Regions from separate parts of the Homo sapiens genome. Here region 1 is linked to region 2. Evidence: fine-mapped expression QTL. A gene starts in region 2. The other region holds a variant in brackets. All regions are shown on one strand. Distances are between the middles of the regions.

Region 1 (11,881 bases), 37 kb before region 2:
ACAAAGGTCGACTGGAAAAAGTGAGGCCAGAGGTGGAGAAACAAGGTGGGGTTCTATTGCAGGAACCAGGGGAGAGCCACAGGGGCTAGAAACAGAGGCACTTAGAGAATGATGAAATTCATCATTCTGCTTAAAAATAATAACTTATTACATGTTAACATGAAGAACGTTTTTCTATTTATAAAATTTATAAAATTACTATTTTATAAAACAAAAAAGTGTAGAGTGGCATTGTTTTATGCTTTTGCAATTCTAGAGGTGTGGCTAAATACAAGAGCTGGATTTTCACATCTGCTCTGCATTCAGTAGATTGTAACATATATCGTTTTGGTTGAAGTATATGAAGAAAATCTAGCCTCACACAAATTTTGGAAAAGGGAGGAGTACAGAGTTAAGTACTTTAATAATCTTGAGATAATTGTGGATTTTTTTTTTTTTTTTTTGAGACAGAGTCTTGCTCTGTCACCCAGGCTGGAGTGCAGTGGCATGATCTCTGCTCACTGCAGCTTCCGTCTCCTGAGTTCCACAGATTCTCTTGAGTAGCTGGGATTACAGGCGCATGCCACCACACCTGGCTAATTTTTGTACTTTTAGTAGAGGTGGGGTTTTGTCATGTTGCCCTGCCTGGTCTTGAATTCCTGGCCTTAAGTGATCCACCCACCTTAGGCTCCCCAAAGTGTTGGGATTACAGGTGTGAGCCACCATGCTGGGCCAACTGTGGCTATTCTTGATACTACAGAAAACTCTATAATAGTTTCGTTTTTCTTTTTTTTAAGGTTAGTCAAGTGAAGCAGTGGGAGTGGAAAAGGAACAATCTTTCTTAAAGGTTGTTTGCAGTGTGGAGTCCAAAACCCTGTTAATGGCAGTTTTGTGCTGCTGCACTGGTCTAGCTTGTGCTTGGAATAGATCTTATATCCATGTGTGTGACTTTACAACATCATGTGTTGACCATTTAAAAAATACTGGCTCACTTATGCGGATCTTTCAAATGTTAACACATTTCGAAATAAAAGATCAAAAATTCACTCATTTATTATTATTCATTCATTCATGGGGGGGCGAGGGATGAGGAAAAGAAAAAACCTTAACTAGAAAAATCTTTATGTATTAGGAAGCTGGTGAACTCACAGTGACGTCTCCAACTTGGAAATCTGTATCTTCAGCCCAGATCCCTTCACTGAGTTCCAGGCTGACTTATCCAATTGCTTGCTTGACATCTTTTCATTATTCTCAAGGCCCCTAGAACTTAGCATGAAGAAAACATACTCAGGCTTTGCATTCAAACCTGGCGCTCTGCGATGTTCCTGGCCAGAGAATCACCAGCAGTAACATAAGCCAGAAATCTCCGACATGCTCCTCTCACTCACCACCAGTTCTGCTCCCACAAATAGCCAAGTCCTGTCAGCTTTATCTTCTGGTGGGCTGTAGCCATGTCTGTCTACAGAAAACCCCCAAGTGGACATCACTGGAAACTCCCAGCTCTTACAGCACAGCCTTAGGTAAGGGGAAGCTGACCAAAAGCTGGCTCAGCACGAAGTTCAGGGCTGGAAACCCAGACATCAGGCCTAGATGCCATGGCCTGTTGAGTGACAGAATTAATTCCTCTCATGGTATAAGATGCTCCTTCCATTTGGGCCTATCATTGAGGCTGACTAGGGTGGGTGTGTTAGATGCCAAGGACTTGCCACTCAAGGCCAAAAGATGGGCTGTCAAGTTTCCATTCCAATATCTAGGACAGCTGATGGGAGAAAACGTGGGTTTCTCAAAGAATAGAAAGACTGTCCCCCTCATCCACCACAGAACAGATCCAGGGAGGTTTTCTGACTCCTTCATGTGACTCCTCATATTGTTGAATCTTAGGAAACTAGAAGGGAGTGAATGTTCAGATGCAATAGAAAAAAAGCTGAAGCCCACTAAGTCCCATCAATAAAACTCTGAAGGCTTCTCCATTGCTGCATCTAGTCAACACTGTCTACACTGCCTTCTGGCCATTTTTTTTTTTCACAGTCAAAGCAGCCAAGATGGCAGGACCTTTGAAGTCAGGTATGACCGACCCACAAGCACCGCCCCTGCTGGTCTGCTCAGAATACAATGGCCTGCACCAGGCCCATCCCCACAACCTTGGCCTTTGGGCATGACATTCGAACAAGCTAGATATATGTAAGAGGAATGAAATAAAAAATACACACATTTTCTAAGTAAGAAATTTATTTGATCAAATGGCAATATATGAAGATATTTTAAACTATAAGGCTCTATCCAGACAAAAAGCATCTTTTTATAAAGTAAGTGTTATCAATTTAAATGGCACCTAAAATCAAAGAATGAGTTTCCTATAAATGTCTGTATAAAGCTTTCATAAAATCCTCATGTATTTTAAAACTAGGTTGCAAGTATAACAGAAAAACCTATAAATAGTACTTAAAAGCAGGTTTCTTAAAATTTATGACACCTACAGTGTGTCACTATAGACAGAGTATTCGGGGGGCTCTGTGACAATCAAACATGGCTGCCATGAGTAAGGGAGCGTGTCCCCTGATGAGCAGAACCGAAGCAGTGATTATGCCTCAGCCTCGAGCTCCCCGCACAGCATCCTACCATTCCAAATTCTTGGGACTTTGAGTTGAGTTGAGAATTACTACAAGAGGAGGTTAGGAAACCAGGATTGGAAAGAGGGAAGGGAGAGGAAACCAAGGCATGCCAGGATCAAAGATATCTATAAAGCAGCTTTATAAATGACCAAGAAAATGGGTTTCTAAAAAACGCAAAATGGTGAGGCCTTGGGGCTGCAACGTGGCATCTGTGAAGAGGACGACGCCACGCCCGCTGGGAAGGGCTGACCTGCATGCCAGGTGCTTGGCTTGGAGCCACCACACGCAACAGCATGAAACTTTCTCTGGAGTGCCAAGTCATTACCTGGAAACACTGGGGACAGGTCAGTGTGTAGCTTATACCAGCTTTCCCCAAAGATTTTTCCAGCAACCAAGTGACTCAGCAACCAAGTGACTCTGTCTTTGGGGCCGTGATGGGAGCTGACATGGAGGAATCTGCAGCTCCAGGTTCTAAGATCAGGAGAGCTTCAGACAAGTGGGAAAACCAGATATAAAGAGGGTGACATACACACACTGTTAGCAGCAAAACGCAAAGGTGTCCAATGATTAAAATGAAATTGAGTGATAGGGAGAAATGGAGAAGATTCCAGAGTGTCAGGGATAGTAACTGAAAATAATTATATAGCACCCATTATTACTAATTTAAGATATATAAGCATCACTGCGGATTTATATAGTGTCTATGCTATTAGTTTAGTAAATATAAATATTTATGAGGGCTTTCAAAATATTTTAAATGACATATACATTCTAATATAAATATTACACTCCAGATTCATACAACTGAGTTGATGTTACATTTAAAGTAGTAGATTTGGGGTTGTATATGGAGTAACTTTTGCAGACCATTTTCTGAACTTTGATCATTCAGCTAAGTAAAGGCCAAAAAACACAGGAAGCATCTTATTGGGAACTTTGGCAGCAAACATGTTTTTATCTATGTATTTATGCATTATACAAAGATACACTTATTCATTTGTATAAATGAATTTAAAGTACTCCATAGGAGATCTTACACTTAAAACACTTTTCTGTCTTCTTATCTGCTTCTTTGAGATCAAGTCTATATGGGAGGCTTCTTCCTTAGAGGTGTGTGTTTAAAAATAGTCTCACGTTTCCCATTCAGGCTAAGTGGCTCTTTTAAGATTCCTAATCTTGAGGTTACAATCTTCACATTGAGACACTGATACACACACATACTTTAATAAAAACAGCAAATGGTCTTATATCACCTACTTTTAGCAGTGTGCTTTTAAAACAGGTTTGTTCCCAGCATTACAGAAAATAATCTCCAAACACATGCATTACTTTCTACTCAGGGAAGGATGTTACATCTAATGACTGTATAGAGTGATTTTGTAAATTAGTCTTATGCGCGTGTAAACTAAATGGGCTGCCCAACTTAACCCCAATGGTTAAAGGAAAGTAGTCTCGGCACTATGACATCACAGTTACACCTGTGCTCTCAGGTACAGGGCGAAAGTGAGAGCGAGAGCGCACGAGAGAGTTCAACCTGAGAGAGCTTTATAATTTCAAGCCTAGGCTGTCATTCACCTTTGCTTCATTTCTCCAAAACAAGCTCCTAATTTAGCTACCTGAAGAGACTGCTGCAGCAGTACAGTGAAAGCAGCCTTTTTTTGAAATAGGGTCTCACTCTGTTGCCCAGGCTGGAGTGCAGTGGTGTGATCTGTGCTCACTGCAACCTCAACCTCCCAGGTTCAAGTGAACCTCCCACCTCAGCCTTCTGAGTAGCTGGGACTACAGGTATGTACCACCACACCCAGCTAATTTTTTTTGTAGAGATGGGGTTTAGCCATGTTGCCCAGGCTGGTCTTGAACTCCTGGGCTTAAGCAATCCACCCACCTTGGCCCCCCAAAGTGCTGTGATTACATGTGTGAGCCACTGTGTCCAGTCGACAGTAGCCTTTTTACTGTGATGTCAATAAACCAACATCTGAAGATGACAGGAACTGGATTCAGAGTCTGTGTAAATTTTCTCAATGAGTGACCGAGCATGTAAATTTAACTCAAATGAAATTACTACAATAATTGCTTTAAAAACATATTTAGGAAAATGAGGTGACCCTAGATGAGCTTATTTATATGTCTCCTCTAACAGAAATCACCTCATGGTAAGAGTTGCTTCTTTTGGCTCAGTTCACCTGAGAACAACTTCATTTGGAACTTTTCTTAGCCATTTAACGTAACAGGAGACTGACTCAAAGTTGGTTCTAGTGGATGAAGCAAAATAGACATGACCAGCATGGCCAATCAATGAGCTTCATTCAACGGAGCGTCCTGGCCAAGTGCCACAGCCACGCTGGCCAGACACACTGACCAGTTACGCATTTCCCACCAGCCAAATGCCACTGTTTACTAAACCATGATTTCAGTAGGAAAAAGAGCTCTGGAATCAAGGCCCTCACTGCAGTACCTGGGTGGGGTGTCCATGGCCTGGCCTGTAGTAAACCCTCTGCCTTCCACTGTGTTCACGTTCGCAGCTCTGGCACTGGGGCATCTGGCACTTTTTTAAAAGAGATGTCTCTGCCTCTAGATGAACAATCTGGAACTTCAGAATACAGATCAAAGAATGAAGCAGATCTTTCAGTGGCCTCATCCTGTGGCACCTGCCCAGCCATTTAACTCCCCTGTCCTCCCACCCTACATAAAGTGTTTCCCACACCAGAGTGTGCACAACATGGTGACTCCAAATCCCAAGGAAGTTGAGTTTAGCTGGAGGTTAACCCCGTGCTCAGAAACCCATCTGTTATCTTTCCAGCTTCAGGTTTCAGAGCAGTTTATAAATGGCATAATACAAGGGTAATGTGAGTAAAATCTGAGAGTTTTGTTCATTATCAAGTTATCCACACAGTGCCCAATTAAGTAAGGTGATCTAGTGGAGTAATACTTCTGGCCTGGGAGAAAAATAAAACCAGTCAAATCACACCTTTCTCTAAAATGTCCCATTAAAAAAATATGGAATAGGCCGGGCGCGGTGGCTCACGCCTGTAATCCCAGCACTCTGGGAGGCCAAGGTGGGCGGATCACGAGGTCAGGAGATCGAGACCATCCTGGCTAACACAGTGAAACCCCATCTCTACTAAAAATACAAAAAAATTAGCTGGGCG[C/T]GGTGGCAGGTGCCTGTAGTCCCAGCTACTCGGGAGGCTGAGGCAGGAGAGTGGCGTGAATCCAGGAGGTGGAGTTTGCAGTGAGCTGAGAATGTGCCACTACACTCCAGCCTGGGCGACAGAGTGAAACTCCATCTCAAAAAAAAAAAAAATTATATGTATGTGTGTATGTATATATATGTATATATATATATATATGTATGTATGTATGTGTGTGTGTGTGTGTGTGTGTGTGTGTGTATATATGGAATAAAGTTTGAGATTCCCTGCTTTTTCATGTTACCTTAGCCTCAATTTTAAACTTACATTGTTTGTTAAAATTATCAAATGGACAACCTCATTGCTATGGAACAAAAAAGACTGTGAGGAAAAAGAATCATAACTTGGAAAAAAATAAGTGAAAAGGCATTGAGAGATTGCTAAGATTTGTTAAGTTAAAACAATAATATATCTAGAAAAGACTGTGAAAATATATATCTCAAAAGAGAACAAGGCATAGTCAGAAGGCTCAGTAAAACAATTACTTTAAAAGCTGACTAATAAAAAGGGTAAGTGAAAGAACTCTTCCATCCTTGACCCTTCCTCACTTCCTCCCTCCGACTCCACCAGTCTGGATGCACTAAAGCAGAATAACCTAAAAGCCATGAAAAAGTGCTGGTATTTTTCAGGATCTCTTCAAGACACCTTCCGTCTTGGTAACCTGAATTCTCTCTCTGATCAAGGCAGCTGATGGACTTTCAATGTATTTGGAGATGCCGGTTCAAAAACGTCATCATCATCTTCTGCTCCTTCTTCTATCGGTTTCATCTTGGCAGAGGCTCGCTGGTGTGGGGATGACACATCTGTGGAAAGATACAGGAGGGAAAACCACTGAATGCACAATCTACCCAGACCCTGGTGTGATATATCAATTATAAATTCCAACTGGAAAATAAAACTGTAGGAATCTATCACTAGCAGCACCAAGAACACAATTTCCATAAACCATTCTATTTCAATCCAGCATCTCAATAAAATAACCAAGTCAAGAAGAGACTCTCAGTCAGGAGCACAGATGAGGGACAGATTCCACCGCATGTGCTTGGATGATCTGAGCTTCTCAAATATATTCAGTTCCCAGGGGTTTGCCCCACAGTCTGCTTAGGACTCAGAACGCATGTTCCTACATTAATATCATACATGGGGGCTTGAGTCTCATATTAGCCCTTGAAAGTTGATTTAACTCCTAATTTCCCCAAAGAATACTTCTATTCCAAAATTATGGAACCTAATCACCATCTGTAATATCACCTAAAACATTTCTTGCCTCCACCATGGAGTCCAGCCACCCACTGGGCTTACACGCAAAGGAGACAGGGGAAGAGGAAGAAAGGCCAGGCATTCAGGAGGGACAAGCCAAGTAGAGGAAACGCAATCCCAGGCAGCAGCAGGAGAAAAGGCAACCCCAGGGCCTTTTAGGATGCCATTTAATCAAAGGAACCAGGCAGCAATTCATTCATTCAGTCACTCACTGGTTCATGCATTCACCAAATGGTTATCAAGCATCTACCATATAATGGATACCATGCTTGATGTAGAAGAAAATACTATCTAAAAGTAAGAGTAGAAGTCATTATCAAAAGGCCTCTCAAGGTGCCTAATGAGCAGCTAACGTGACTGCATAAACTCCCCTCCTTACAGTCACCACCATCACTGTCAGGATCCATGTTGTCCGGGTTTCCACCTGCTCTGCCCACACCCATATCTTCGCTACCCAATCACAGGGTGGAGTGGCATTCCGGCAGCCCACAAATGCTGAACTCAGCTGGGGAGAAGGTTGATGGTGGAGGGATACCGGGTGAAACCTGGCTCTTTAAATACATGCTCACAGCAAAAGCGAGTGGAGGATCTATTAAGACATGAAGCAGATCTGCTACAAGATGACCACAGAAGTTTGTCAAGATCAGCTGTCATTCACTGGCAGGAGTCAGGAGCAGACAGCTGGGTTGGCCAGCACAGGGAGAATGCCACAACCAGCAAGGAGGGCCAAGGGCTATGAGCATGTCACACGGCTGCTCCTGGAGGGAGGCTGAGACAGCGGCAAAGGCTTTGCCCTGGCACTCAGCCATGAACGAGTGGTCATTCCTGGCCCCTGGTATGGCACAGGGGGAGGGAGCATGCAGAGTGGTCAAGACCAGAGGCTCAGCAAACAGTTCCAGAGTTCAAATCCCTACTCTGCAACCTGCACTCAATTACTATACCTTTCTAGGCCTCTGTTTCCATATCTATAAAAAGGGGATATTCTTAGGATCTGCTCCATGGGATTGTTAGGAGGATTAAACAGAATAATGCATAGGATGTACTTAGCAGGGTGTTGGGCCTATAGAACATGTGACTAAATGTCATTTCTTATTAACTGTACAGTCACTGCCGTACATCTGGGGAAATGCTACCACCAGTCACATCCTCTAACATAAAAAAATATGCAGGGCTAGACTGTGGTACAGCTAATGTATACTCGCTGTATATATACGGAAATTGTTCACTTACAGACATTTACAGCAAAAATACTGAGTCTCTTGAATGACAACTATTGACATAAACTGTAGAAAAGAAGCATCTAATAAAATGGTCCAAGAACCCAATTCTGCACAGGGCACAGCATGGGAAGTTCTCAGGCGAGTTCTTCCCCTTTCCCATGCAGGTGACATCAAACACACGAAACACAACCTCTACTTCAATGTCTATTCAAATGGCAATGAATTCTATCTGTGCGACCTTGGACAAGTTACTTCTTTGTGCCTTAATTTCCTTACCTGTAAAATAGGAATAATAAGAACAGCACCTATTTCATATGGTTGTTATAAGGATAAAACAACTTGATATTTGTAAAGTTATTAGATCAGTGCCTGGGATGTAATAACCACTTTGTAAATATTTGTAAGAACATAAAAATCAATTACTATGGTCTTTGGAAGGCTATGGACTTAATAATGAGAAAATTTGTTAAAATTCATCATTGCTCATAAGAATGGCCAATAAAGGAAATGGGCCTTGTGCTCAAATGTGGGTTTGTGTTTCTCAATCTTAGCTCTCTTGAGTGTGGCAAAATTGTCTTTAAAAAAAAAAAAAAAAGCCCTGGTTTCCATCATATTTTTAGCCTTAAGTTATCATTGGGTCTCATAAATATTAACTTAGGCTGAGTATCTACAATGAGACAAAACTCTCAGAACAAACAATAAGATGGCATGTCTAAGAGCATTAAATCAAGTCAATAATATATAGTATATAGACATAATTGTGTAACACGCTTAACAGAAACATACCCAGTTTATTCTGTCTGAGGAAGTAGGACTAACTGGTTTCTAGTTTTTAAGCTCATCTATCATACCAGGAAGGACATCCTACAGTTATATTGAGGCAGGTATCTATACTCTGGAGCCACAATGGTATCTGACCCTCCCAACTCTCTCACCTATACTTTGCATTTTTTTTCACTGAGAGAAAATGAAGGGAGGACTCAACACAAATGGAAATGGTTAAGTGAGAACTTCCCAAGAGCTTTCAGCTTTTCTGTGAAAGAATTTATTCTGCTCCCACCATATTTGCTGGGGCAGAAGAAGAGCTATGGAACTTACTATATAACATTAAAAGGATAATGAGAGTGATTCACAATCCTTAGGGTGACATCCAGGGTTCTCCAAGTTGGGTCTCCCTCCCTCTTCCAGTCCAAGCTCTTGCAAACTCACTGCTCTTCAAATCCAGCCCATCCTCCTCTTTTCCTCTTGCCTTTTTTCCCTCTACTTGGAATGGTTCCTCCACTCCCATCTCTAACCACCAAATTCCCATTGTTTCCTCAAGCAGGATTCAAACTCCACCTCCTTCATGTGTAACCCTCCATGACTCCTGTGGGAAGATTCTACCCTCTTCATCTCAATAACTTCAGCCCTTCCACATTCTGTGTAACATTGTGGTTATAGCATTTGCATCTCTTCCTTATTAGAAAACAGGCATCTTGAGTGCTGTAACCAAGGCCTCTTTCCTCCTGCAGCCTCACAGAATTACTCCACACATAGTCAGGACCTTGATAATGTCCTTAAGTACACAGTGATGAAAAAATCCCTCCTCTGAAAGGCCACATAGGGAACCTCAGAAAGGATCCTGAGGATGAGGGAAAAAGACATGGACATCACCTTTAATTTCTGGCGGGTCTCCCAGTGGGGCACCACCAGCATTCCTCAAGCGCAGGCAGGCCTCAGGGTCCAGTAAACCTCATTAGGAAAAGGGACTGTCATCACTCTACTTTGTAGCATGTCCCCTGAAGGAAATCACTTTTGTAGAATTGATTCGACACTGCTTAGGGCATGGACAAGAACACCGTTCTCTCAAAGGAATATCAATAGGCTTAATAGCACCATCACCTGCTACAATGTTTTCATCCAATCAGTAAAAGGAATCAGGGAGTGACCACAAGGTGCTAGGACAATGGGTTAAATGTTGGGGAAATAAAAAGGAATCACACCCAGTCTTTCATGCTGTCTTATTTTATTTCTCAGAAACTCAAAGCACTTTTCAGAGCAATTCACCCTCACCACATCTGTACTATTATTTCTACTGTATATTCAGAAGCTAAAACAAAGACATCCGTGAAAGAAAACAGAGAGGGGTGGCTGCCATGAATGAGCTTATTTCTTACCAGGGTGTGAACCACTTAGAACACATCCTAGGAGGATAAACCAGGGAGTCCTAAGGGCCTGGAAAGATGGAATTTTTCTGCAAAAGTTCTTGATTCACTTTCATTTCAAGCTTTGTGGCTGAGAATCTGCAATCCCCCCCCAACTCCCTGTCCTTATAACAACATTGCCTTGTTGCTCTTTTTCCACCTTGGTAGACACACTGGCAGACAGGAGCACAGCCCAACCTGTCACTTCCAGGGACTACCTGGTGCCAGCTGGCTGCCAACCCCTCGCTTGGAATTAGAATCACGGAGAGTGTCCACTCTTTGTACCAGCCCCAGTTAGCCTGGCCTTCTGTACCATTGAGGGCCAAGTATAACATTCACATCCAGGAAGACAAAAGGATCACCTGCCCTGCCTCGGAATCTGCAACTGTCATGGCCACCAGAAAGCCCAGCTTTGAGGAGTGAGGGGCTCACCTGGCCCCTAGACATGGGGCTCTCTGGCCTCATCAGGAGACTTACTGGTTCAATGGAAAGATTCAGAGTCCATCCCTATATAGCTGGAAATTATTTCTTTGAACCCCTAATACATCCAAAACCAATTTGTAGTAAGAACAAGAAAAAGAGGGAATATTATATTTCAAGGGAATGCTCTTGCATTTCACAAGTTGAACATTAATAAATAACTTCTACAGGTTTGCCTGGTTTTTCATTAATTTTACGTACTGATAGATATCAGAAATTTGCCCAGAGGCCCAACTATCTTCCAGAGATGTGAGAACATGAGAGGAGAGAGGAAGAAATAGAGCTTATCTTTAGTTAAGTGATTTTTCAAATCACTTTTGTTCTTCAAGGAGGTTACTGTAAGGTTCATGATCTCTGTAGAATGCTTTACTTTTCATTTATTGCCAATTGTAGAGGGGCAAATAATTTCATATCCATAAATTTCCCAGAAAATTGATTCTTAGTTTTCTATTAAAACTATTTTTACAGTTGGGAGGCAGAGTGGTTAACTCCATCCTGTTGTATTTATTGTGATCAGGAAAAGACTTCTGTAGTAATTTTTTTTCTGTTAGCTATAATCACCTTCCACCTACCAGTTAATACATTTTATTATAAAAGTATATAAACAGTATCATACTGAACTGAAACCCAGACTTAACAGGTGTGAAACTGTTAAACAGTTACGTCAAGAGTTACTGTTGCTGGAGGGATGTTTCATATTACACCAAGTGGCAAAAAAGTCCTCTGCACAAAGGACTTCCATAAGGACCAAGGCATCGAGAAGGTGCAGCCAGTGGAGCACAATTGTGCTCTGGGGTGTCTGCCACACTCGCAGTATGTTCAGGTGGGAAAGAGAACTGTAGCACCAGGCTGCCGTGCTGAGGGTGAGAAAGAAAAACTCCAAGTCAAGGACCCTGAGCACATGCGGAAGACTGGGACAGCAGCGAGAGTCCTGAGCGAAACAGTGGACACCTTTGCTC
Region 2 (11,881 bases):
TGGCCATTTTTTCTCCATCTTAATTTTGGATGGGTCATTTTACTTGTCTAGGTTTCACTTTTTAAAATTTTTTTTTCTTTTTTGAGACAGGGTCTTGCTCTGTCGCCCAGGCTGGAGTGCAACAGCCTCGACATCCCAGGCTCAAGCCGTCCTCCCACCTCAGTCTCCCAAATAGCTGGGACCACAGATGCATGCCACCATGCCTAGATAATTTTTAAATGTTTTGTAGACAGAAGGTCTCACTACATTGCCCAGGCTGGTTTTGAACTCCTGGCTTCAAGAGATACTCTCACTTCAGCCTCTCAAAGTGCTAGGACTACAGGCGTTAGCCACTATGCCTGGCCTAGATTTCTCTTTCTGCATTTACAGAATAAAGTGTTAGATTTGATAATATCTTTGGTTCATTCCACCTCCAAAACTCTGTCTTAAAATTCATAATTGATGTTTGCTTTTTTATAGGGTACGGTATTTTTTTTTCCATTCAACTCCCTGTTCCTACTGCTGTAATCCTCACCTTACTCACAGGTCACACAGCCACAGAGGTCCCACAAGCTTCTACTAACCTTCCAGCCTCTTTTTCCTTGTCATTTATCACTTTTTTTTTTTTTTTTTTGAGGCAGAGTCTAGCTCTGTCGCCAGGTTGGAGTGCAGTGGCACAATCTTGGCTCACTGCAACCTCTGTCTCCGGGGTTCAAGCAATTCTCCTGCCTCAGCCTCCCGAGTAGTTGGGATTACAAGTGCCTGCCACCATGCCTGGCTAATTTTTGTACTTTTAGTAGACACAAGGTTTCACCATGTTGGCCAAGCTGGTCTCGAACTCCTGACCTCAGGTAATCCACCCACCTCGGCCTACCACAGTGCTGGGATTACAGGCGTAAGCCACTGTGTCCAGCCCATTTATATTTTTAAGCACAATGCACTACTCTACGTTCACCCCAATATGCTCAATTTCCTTCTCTTCTGTGCTCTTTGTTTGGATACTATACCCATTTACTCAGATAAATCCTGCTCATCTTCCAAAATCCAGGTCCCATGTCACCTCCTCAGCGGGACCCTGCTCTGCCTTCCTACTAAGCCTATCACCTTCTCCGTGTCCCCCTGGATAATGGGTGCACACCTGCATCCCAGCATCTGATACGCCATACTGGGATTGCCCATCTGTTTCTCCACCAGCCCCCACAAGAGTGTCTTTCTCAAGGATGAAGACGGCCTTCCTCAGTCTTTGTCTGGACACATCACAGGTGCTAAAAAATGCACCTGAATAAATGGGCCATCAGGGAAATAATCACATAGAGAATAATTTGTCAAGAATCACTGGCTAATATAACAGATTCAATTGTTTTAATGTTCTGATGTGAATCAATTTAACTTGCTTCATCAGGGTTACTGGGACCAAAAAAAATTTGTTTTATTTGAACTACTGTATCTGGTAATTGTTTTTGTTCCCAATGTTTCTTTACTGCCCACAGCAAATATCTTTTCAAGTAATAATAGTTAAAACTATACAGTACTTACTATGGGCAGGCAATATTCCAAGTTAAATATATATATGACACACATTTAATTCACAACAACTTTGGGAGGTGGTATTATTTTTACCCTTATCTGATACATGAGGAAACTGAGGCAGTAGAAAGATTAAATCACTTGCCCAAGTTACAGTTGACAAGAAATAGAACCAGGATTTGAATCACACAATTTGGCTTTAAAGTTCATACTCTTACACATGAATGAATGTTCTGGTATCTGGAAAACCTAAACAACATATGAAAGCACATATAAACAAAGTAAGTAAGGGAGAGATATGGCATGTGAAGGCCTATGCTCTAAGCTAATTGATATACTGCTAATTCATTAACAAAGACTTACATTTTTTGGCTTGCTATGGGCCTGACAAAGAATACTCTGAAGCTCTCAATGTAAAGCCCATCTTATGTCAGTTACAGAAAAGTTACATAAAGTATCAGTTAGGTATCTTACCTAGAGTTAACATTCCCCTAAGAAATATCATATGAAGGTGAAGAGTAGTTGGAATAACCAACCCAACTGCAAAACAAATATTTGCTACATGAAAAACCAGATGATGTATCTCTCTCCAGTTTTCACAAGTGGTCTTATTGGAAGGCACAGGTATGATACTTTCTAACTCAGGTGTAAAACCTATGGCAGTTGATTCTCTCAATGGGCTGGACTCTGTATAATTCATTTTGAAAATTCCTGTAAAAACAAGTAAACAAAAGTAAAATCGTAAAAATGGCAATTGTATCTTTTTACCTTCATAGGTATTATACCAAAATTATTTCTGTGAATTAAATAGACTTCTCTAGTGCTTATGAATTAGACAGACCCAGATTCAAATCCAACTCTGTCACATATTAAATGTATTCAGTTCCTTACCTGTTAAAAGATGGTAATAATACCTCATTTGCCTTATGATCAAATGAAATGAAATACATAAAATACTTAGCATAGTGCAAAACTATTCCCTCATAGGCACATATATACGTATAAACACTTGTAGGGAAGGGAGGAGTGAGGGAATTAGTCTTTAAGATAATCACCAATGTTCATAAACCATGGTAATTACAAAGTTATTTAGTCTAGTCTTCCATCAAATTCCCACTGGTGACTGAATCCAAACACAGGAAAAATAACTAGAAAACTAATTATTTGAATACTTAAAAAATATGAATACCCTCACATCTATTTGAAGGCTTAGGATATTTAGAAGGCTCTATTTTTATACCACCATTAAATCACTGTATCATACATACATAATACATTATCATATATGCAAATAATATATAGCCATATAAACATTTATATATACACAGAGAGATACAACATGAAACTTTTATTGTCTTATTTAAATCTCTACTTTATTTCCCATAATAATTCTACCTGGTAGCATATCACAAATTTAAAAGTAGTAAACTTCCAGTTTACTTATACATATGAAAATCCATAGCAAGTACATTTAAAGAATATACATTTTACACATGCTTATATAAAACCATTTCCTATGTTACCTGTCTTCGGTCTCCGGTCCTTAAAAAACACTCTATTATTAATTGCACAAATTTGGTCCTTGCCAAACACTATGTAGGTTTACAGATTATATGAATTATTCTGTTTCAGCAAAATTCCAAATGGGGACCCTAAATACATTTAAATTTAGAAATATGTATTTCTTTCAAAATAAGGTCATGCAATTAATCTTACTCTTCTACTGCTTGTTCTTAACATACTAAAGGTTTTAGGTAGTAGAATAATTAATTGGTACAAAATGGGTATTTTGAAAGGATGTTAACAGACAAATGTGAAAGAATTCCACAGCTTAAAGATGATAAAAAACAAGCACACCAATTTACAAATTGTGAATGAAATGATCAAGTCAACTGAAGATCTTTTTACATAATTCTGAAATAGCTCATAAATATTAATAGTAATAGTTGACTTAGATATTGATTTGCTACAAAAAGGAAAGAAACAAAAATTCACCTATTTTCCAAATGTCTGAAATCAGCAAATATATAAGCCTATCAGGATGGCGGGGGGGAAGATCATTATTTTAATAACTCCATTTATACAAAATTTGCTTTTCAAGGCCAAACGAGAATGAATCTCGTAACTTCTGCAGGACAGAGAATGATATGAGGTATCCTCTATCACTCATAACCCAACATCACCTACCCTAGCATTACATAGGTTAATAATAACTATCATTTCGACAGCACTGTAGAATGTACCTACACTCCCATTGTCCTGTTTGTCCTCTAGGAGGCAGGGACAATGTTTATTCATCTATGTACTTCCAAGGCCTAGCCTCTGTAGAGAAGGCCACTGAGACAGGGATGAAAGCCACTCTGAAGGAACGTCAACCTGATAAACACTTTCAGAAATCACTGTTCCGTCTCCCCAGATCTCAGTAATAAAGCCAGAGGAGTGCCTAGCCTTCCTGAGGTTGAGTGAGGTTCTACACCACAAGCCACCAGGGTGCTACATAAGCCAGGGAAAGCCACTTCTGCTCCTCGGGTCTGTTTCTTCCTTGGAATAGGGAAAACTTTAATAGCCTATGGTTCTATAATACACATTTACATAATCAATCAATCAATACATGTTGCCCCTCGAGTTCACCCAATTTCACCTGTATTGCCTATTAATCCACTATAATTCAATATCAGGCTTTTACAAGTTCTTAAAGTGACACTAAAAGTACCAATTTCTGGTCCAAGAAAAATGACAGGAAAACTACTATTATGACCCAAGAACCAGAAAATATTATTAGCAGTTTTTAGAAGGTACGGTCATCCTAAACATGTTTTGACGCACGACACCTTATTAAAGAGAGAGAGAGATATATATAGATATATGTATCTATATATCTATATAATTGTCTATTGTGAAATGCCAGTTACCTATTGTCGAAAATATTGATCAGATCAGTTTACTTTGATTACCACTTAATCGTTAAGTGGCTTACACTTAACAATTCTTATACAGAGAATAGGTGGAAAGAGAAAGGTTAGACTGCTAAATTGGTAAACTTTTCAGATTAATTTTGACTAAATCAAGAGAAATTATTTTTCCCTCATCAGATCATCAAAGTTGAAGTCCTTAAATTACCTATACTAGTAAAGTTTTGTTTATCGTTTTTCAAATAGGTGATTGTAGGGCTAAATAGCTAAATGCTGAAACTAACATTAAACCTCTACCAAACTAAAAAAATGAAAAAGATAACTGCAAACGAGCGTCTTGCTAGTCGAGTTAATTCATTCTGTAATTCTAACTGAATCTTCGCACATCTCCCGAATGGCAAATGGCATTACATTGCTAAGAGTCTTTTCGCACTTATTCATGCTTCAAAGCAGGCAGTTTCTGGGACTTGTCTGGCCAACAACCCGTTCCCAAAGGCTCGGGGAAGGAGGTTGCGGGTGGGTGGCGCGGACCTCGGGTCCCCAGCCATCGGCGCTCTCCCGGGGCCCTCTGACCTCGCTCCTTAAAGGAGGAGGGTCCGTGGCAACGGTCCTCCTCGGCCAGGCGCTCTCGGGACGCGGGGGTGAGGAGTGAGCGCCGTGGCCCACCCTACTCTCCGAGCGGGGACGGAGTGGGCGACACCGCGCGCCCGGCTGCACGCAGGCTCTGCGCGGCTCGAGGCGGCCCTACAGGGGGCGAGGAGGAACCCCGGAGACTCGGCGGAGAGAGCAGAGACGGAGCTCACCAAGGGGCTTGCCGCCGCAGAGCGCGGGAGCCGGCACTCGGTGGGGCCGAGGGCCCGGGGACGCTGGGGCTGCCTGACCTGAGCGGCGGCCGCTGACCGTTGAGGGTCTCTGTGGCCGCAGCGCCCAGACCCGGGGAGAAGGGCGGCCTCCAAGGGCCGGGAGCCCCTCGAGGGCGCGGCCAGCGAGGAGGGACAGAGGGCGGCGCCCCCGGCTGCCCGGGCGCGTAGAACAAGCAGCTGCCGCCAGGGCCGACAAAGTTGCTCCCCGAGGGGCTGAGATCCAACTTTCGCTTCCCGATTTAGCCAGGGGAGCGCGAGGCCGCACACAACCCGGCGCGGGGGGAAAGCCGGCTGCAGCTGCGCCTCCCATCCTTACCCGGCTGGTCCCTGGCGGGGAGCCTGGGCAGCGCCGACCAAAGTTCGGAGCGGCAGCTTCGGGGCGCGGGACGCGGGGCACACGGGCTCAGCTGCTCGACGGGAGCCCGACGCGCGCTCCTCGGCGGGTCGGCGGGTCCGGAAGCTCCGCTGCCCGGGCCGGGTCCCCAAGCCCGCAGCCGCTTTGACTAAAATAGGCATCGCGACGGCGGCGGCAGGCGGCGGCAGCCAGGGCTGGGGCCGCACCGCGCACGCGCATGCGCCCGCCGCCCCGCGCCCCCCGGCGGGCGGAGCCCGGCGCCGCGGCCAGGATTTCCCACCTCGCTCCCGCGACTCCGCTGCGGGTCTGCACACCCGAGGACTCGGTTTGAAACGCCCGCTTATTTATTTTCTTGTCGCCTCGCTACAAGATTCTATCCTTGTTTGGGCATGAGTGGGGGGCGGCAGTCTCGTGGGACCGGCGGCATTCGTCGTTCCTCCTTACGGGGATAATTCGAGAAGTGCGGTCCGGGTAGGGAGAGAAATCAGGAGAGAAAATGAGAAAGAGAATCCTCGTTTCCCCTCAAAGTTGGACGACCCACTCGTATATCTCCTTTTTGGGAGATTCGCCCATAACTCAGCACAAACAGGGAATAGCCCGGAAAGCGCGCGAGTTCCCGTCCGATTGTGGCGGGGGAGGCTGAACGTTTGGTCCACACGGGTGCAGGACGCGGGGGTCAGGCCTCCTGCTGCGGAGGAAGAGGGGGAAGAGGCCGCGCGGGAGGGACTTCTGACACGCGCCACTGTTTTTGTTTTCAAACAGGGGTACTTAACCGAAACTAGCAATCCCAGGCGGTACAAGGCCCTCCATCGTAGGCAAAGCACTACCTGAATGTAGATTTGGGCCATACGTTGGAAAATAAGACATGAGAGTATGCTCCGATCAACTTTTACTGTTCACTGGACAACTATTTTGGGTAAGAAAAGCAAGGAAACTTAATAAAGAATTGGCGTTGTTGGGAGTTGTCTTGTAGGACAATAGAGGAAGGTTAGATGGGTACCCAGTTTCCACCAAAAGTGTCCCATTATTGGTTAAAATTGGCATCAGTTATTAGATTATGAGATCGTTCATGCATGTGAAATGTGATCTCAATATAAAAAATACCACCACCGATTGTGTGAAGGTACATTATAAAGAGTACCTGGAGGTGCACACTGGACAAGTCTCTGGTTGAAGAGATGGTGCAGCCTAGTAAGAAAGAGCATGGGCCTTGATGTCACACAAGCCGGGTTTGAATACTCCCTCTCCTACCAGTTTACTGTGTGACCTTGGAGAAGTTACCTAGCCCTTCTGTGCCTCAGTTTCCTTTTTGGAACATGGGGATAATGATGATGATGATGATGATGATGATGATAATTATGATAATTGTACCTGCACTTCATAGTATAGTTTTGAGGACTAAATGGTGTAATTATATATAAGGGTCTTAAAATGGTGTTTGGGACATAAGTTCTATGTATATATATTGTATTTATAAAACTCCTTTTCTAATACGTCTGAACTTTCCTATAACCATAAAAGATTACTTTTTGAGATTACTTCTTTAGAGTCTGTTTCTTTCTAGATGCTCTGCCAGCCTTTTTTTTTTGAGGCAGAGTTTCACTCTTGTTGCCCAAGCTGGAGTGCAATGGCGCGATCTGGGCGCACTGCAACCTCCGCCCCCCGGGTTCAAGCGATTCTTCTGCCTCAGCCTCCCCAGTAGCTGGGATTACAGGTGTGCCCACGTCCCTACCAGCTGTTTTGATAGCTACCACTAAATACATTTTAAGGTGTGGGTATACATGTGTGCGTAAAGACTTAACTACACAGATGTTCACTGGAGGGTGAGTTATAATAATGAATATTGGAAATAGCCTAAATTCTAACCACAGGGGACTAAGTAAATTATAGAACATCCAGACAGTCTTGTTTATGAAAGAGCATGGGCCTTGATGTCACACAAGCTGGGTTTGAATCCCCCCTCTCCTACCAGTTTAAACAGCCATTAAAAATAAAAAACATAGAAACAGACTCTATGTTTAAACAACCATTAAAAATAATTTCTAGAAAGATATTATAGACATCATAATAATGTCTACTAATTATATAAAGCAAGCTATGCCCCCAAAACCCCAGCCCACTGCCTGTTTTTGTATACCCATTTTTACATTTTTTATGGTTGGAAAAAATCAGAAGAAGAATATTTCATGATATGTGAACATTATATAAAATTCAAATTCAGTGTCCATAAAGTTTTATTGGAACCCAGTCACGTTCATTTTTATGGCTGCTTTCATGCTGCCAGTGCGGCTTTGATTAGTTACAAGAGAAACCTTATGGCCCACAAAGCCTAAAATGTTTACTCTCTGGCTCTACAGAAGAAGCTTACTGATGCCTCACATAGAGTATACTTTGTGTCAGGCAGTGTTATAAGTAACTTAGATATATTGTCACCTATTACACACCCACTCCTTACCTTCAGGATAGGATACCTGTAAGGCATGTAGATCTTATAAAGATTGCACATTTTTATGAAAAGAGCACTGAATTAGTTATCATAAGATTTGAGTTCTAGCCTTTCACAGAGTCTGTGTTTTCTTTGAGTCTGTGTTCTATAGGAAGTGAAGACTGGAAAAAACCTAATCCCCTCACTATAACCCATCTAGGATTGAAACCGTTATTTATAATGAGTATCTTACTGTATTTTAATTTCTTATCCCAGATGTATGAATAGTAGCTTTATAAAATTCAAAGCAAGAATTCTAAACACATAGCCCAGGATATGGGAATGCCTTAAGCTCCCTGGTCTCCTCCTGCTGGCCACAGAAAGGTCAGATTGAAAGCTTCCGAGCGCTATTTTGAAAGTTAATATGAAGCAAGGAGCTAATTTGCACATACGTGTAGAATGAAAAGGGTAAGAAGCATGAATAACAAAATACAAGGCAGTCTGTCTCCTCTGTAAAAACTCTGGCTAGTGTTAGATTGACATAATTATTTTTACCTTTATTTCTCTATAGGCATCCTAGTCTACTTTTACCAGTTGGATAAAACCTTAATGAGACTTCAAAGTTCAGATAGAATAAGTTTTGTGAAAATAAAACAAGATCTGAGGGAGTCACTTGTTTTAAAAGTACACATATATTGGGAGGCTGAAGTGGGCGGATCACCTAAGGTCAGGAGTTCTAGCCAACATGGTGAAACCCCATTTCTACTAAAAATACAAAAATTAGCCCGGTGTGGTGGTACATGCCTGTAATACAGCTACTCTGGAGGCTAAGGGACAGGAATTGCTTGAACCCGGGAGGCAGAGGTTGCGATCAGCCGAGATCACACCACTGCACTCCAGCCTGGGCAATAGAGTGAGACTCTGTCTTAAACAAAAAACAAAAAAACAAGTACTCACATAACAGTAAGTAGCGTTATATTCCTTATCTACAAATCTGCCCATGGTATACATCAGTGTAGACTTTATTTCAACTGTTATTACTAATTGCATGGAGACTATAGCAGTTTCTGATACATTCTCATAGCAGACAGTTCTGGTCACGACTGGTTTCTGAACCCACATTCCTCTCACTAATTGTTGCATTAACTTTTTCACTGACCAGTTTGACAACCATCCTCACTGATTGTTTTTACATTTCTTTTGATTTTTAAAAAATTAATGGACTTTTTTAAAGAGCAGTTCAAGTTTACAGATGACTGAGCAGATAGTTTCCCTCATGATTAACACCTTGCATTAGTGTGGTATGTGTGTCACAAAGGGAGAACTCAAACTGATCCATCATTATTAACAAAGGTCTGTAGTTTACTTTACAGTTCACTCTTCATGTTGTAGATTCTGCAGGTTTTGCCAAATGTATAATGTCATGTATCCACCATTACAGTATCATACAGAACAATCTCAATATACTGTGCTGCAGTTCTTCATCCCTCTGTCTATCCTCCTCCCACACCCCTGGCAACCACTGATCTTTTTACTGTCTTCATAGTTTTGCCTTTTCCAAAATATCCTATTGTTGGCATTATATAATGTATTGCCTTTTCAGATTGGCTTCTTTCACTAAGCAGTATGCATTAAGTTTCTTCCATGCCTTTTCTTTTTTTAATGTGATGTATGTATATATTGTGAAATGATTACCACAATCAAATTAGTTGACACATCCATCACCTCAGATAGTTACCATTTTTATGTGTGTAGTGAGAACATGTAAGATCTACTCTCTTAGCAAATTCAGTTATAAAATAAAGTATAGCTAACTGGAGTCACTACTCCATTCATTGGATCCCCAGAGCTTATTCATCTTATAACTGGAAGTTTGTACCCTTTGACCACCTCCCCGGTTTTCCCACCCTTCAGCCCCGGGTAACTGTATTCTCTGTTTCTGTGAGTTCAACTTTTTTAGATTCCATGCATAAGTGAGGTCATACAACATTTGTCTATCTCTTTCTGACTTATTTCACTTAGTGTAAGCCCTGCATTTTTATTCATGTTACAAATGAAAGAATTTCCTTCTTTTATGGCTGGATAATATTTCACTGTGTACATATGCCATATTTTCTTTATCCATTCCTTCCTCAGTGGACACTTACATTGTTTCCCTGTCTTAGCTGTTGTTAATATTGCTGCAATGAACATGGGAGTGCAGACATCTCTTTGAGATACTGATTTTATTTCCTTCAATATATACCTAGAATTGGGCTTGCTGGATCATATGGTAATTATATTTTTAATTTTTCAGGGAACCTCCATACTGTTTTCCGTAATGGCTATACCAGTGTACACTCCCACCAACAATGCACAGGGGCTCCTTTTTCTTCATATTCTGGCCAATACTTGTTACCTCTTGTCTTTTTGATAGTAGCCATTCTAACAGGTGTGAGGTGATTATCTCATTGTAGTTTTGATTTGCATTTCCTTGATGATAGTAATGGTGAACACCTTTTCGTGTGTCTGTTAGCCATTTGTATGTCTTTGGAAAAATGTCTATTGAGGTCCTTTACCTATTATTTATTTATTTATTGCTGTTGAGTTATATGAGTTTCTTACATATTTTGGATATTAACCCCTTATCAGAGATATGGTTTTCAAATATTTTCTCCCATTCCATAAGTTGCCTTTTCATTTTGTTGATTGTTTCCTTTGCTGTGCAGAAGCCTTTAAGTTTGATGGAATCCCACTTGTTTGTTTTTGCTTTTGGTATCATATCCAAAAAGTCATGGCCAAGACCAATGTCAAGAATACTTTTTCTTACATTTTCTTCTAGTGGTTTTATGGTTTCATTTAAGTCTTTAATCCATTCAGAGTTAATTTTTGTGAATGGTATAAGATAAGGGTCCAATAATCAGTCTTCCCAAAACAATTTATTAAAGATACTATCTTTCCCCCATTGTATATTTTTGGTGCTGTCATCAAAAATTACTTGATCATAAACACATGGACTCATTTCTGGGCTATTCTGTTTCATTGGTCTAGACGTGTGATTTTATGCTGGTACCATTGTTCTGATTACTGCAGGTTTGTAATACAGCTTGAAATCAGGAAATGTGATGCCCCTAGCTTTGTTCTTCTTTCTCAAGATTGCTTTGGCTATTTGGGGTTTTTGTTTGTTTGTTTGTTTGTTTGTTTCTTTTGAGATGGAGTCTCACTGTGTTGGCTAGGCTGGAGTGCAGTGGCACAGTCTCCGCTCACTGCAAACTCTGCCTCCAGGGTTGAAGTGATTCTCCTGCCCTAGCCTCCCAAGTAGCTGGTATTACAGGTGCCCACCACCATGCCTGGCTAGGTTTTGTATTTTTAGTAGAGACGCGGTTTCTCCACGTTGGCCAGGCTGGTCTCGAACTCCTGACCGCAAGTGATCCACCCACCTCGGCCTCCCAAAGTGCTGGAAGGGATTACAGGCGTGAGCCACAGCGCCTGGCCTATTTGGGGCCTTTTGTAGTTCCATGCGAATTTTAGGATTTTTTTTCTATTTTTGTGAAAAATGCCATTGGAATTTTGATAGAAAATGCATTGAGTTTATAGATTACTCTTGGTAGTATAGACATTTTAACAATATTAATCCTTCCGAACCACGAACGTAGGACATATTTTCATTTATTTGTGTCTTCCTCAATTTATTTCATCAATGTTTTATACTTTTAGTGTATAGGTCTTTCATGTTCTTGGTTAAATGAATTGCTAAATATTTTATTGTTTTGATGCTGTTGTCAATGAGATTGCTACTTCATTTCAGGTAGGTTGTTATTCATATACAGAAATACAACTG

What was found.
Region 1: its variant is fine-mapped to the expression of POPDC1-AS1 in testis (GTEx, PIP above 0.99).

What each region holds. Positions count from the first base shown.
Region 1 is chr6:105,094,632-105,106,512 of GRCh38, forward strand. POPDC1 (popeye domain cAMP effector 1) reads right to left here. Exons shown (of 8, transcript NM_001199563.2): 8 at 2,191-6,582. The coding sequence ends at 6,458. Among named protein-coding and RNA genes, the nearest start is that of POPDC1, 37 kb to the right of the region's middle. The variant C/T (reference allele first, on the strand shown) is at 5,741.
Region 2 is chr6:105,131,372-105,143,252 of GRCh38, forward strand. It overlaps POPDC1-AS1 (POPDC1 antisense RNA 1), which reads left to right and starts at 6,316. Exons shown (of 4, transcript NR_037157.1): 1 at 6,316-6,552. POPDC1 (popeye domain cAMP effector 1) reads right to left here and starts at 5,786. Exons shown (of 8, transcript NM_001199563.2): 1 at 5,598-5,786; 2 at 1,981-2,217. The coding sequence starts at 2,206. RefSeq lists silencers at 5,585-5,704, 5,715-5,824.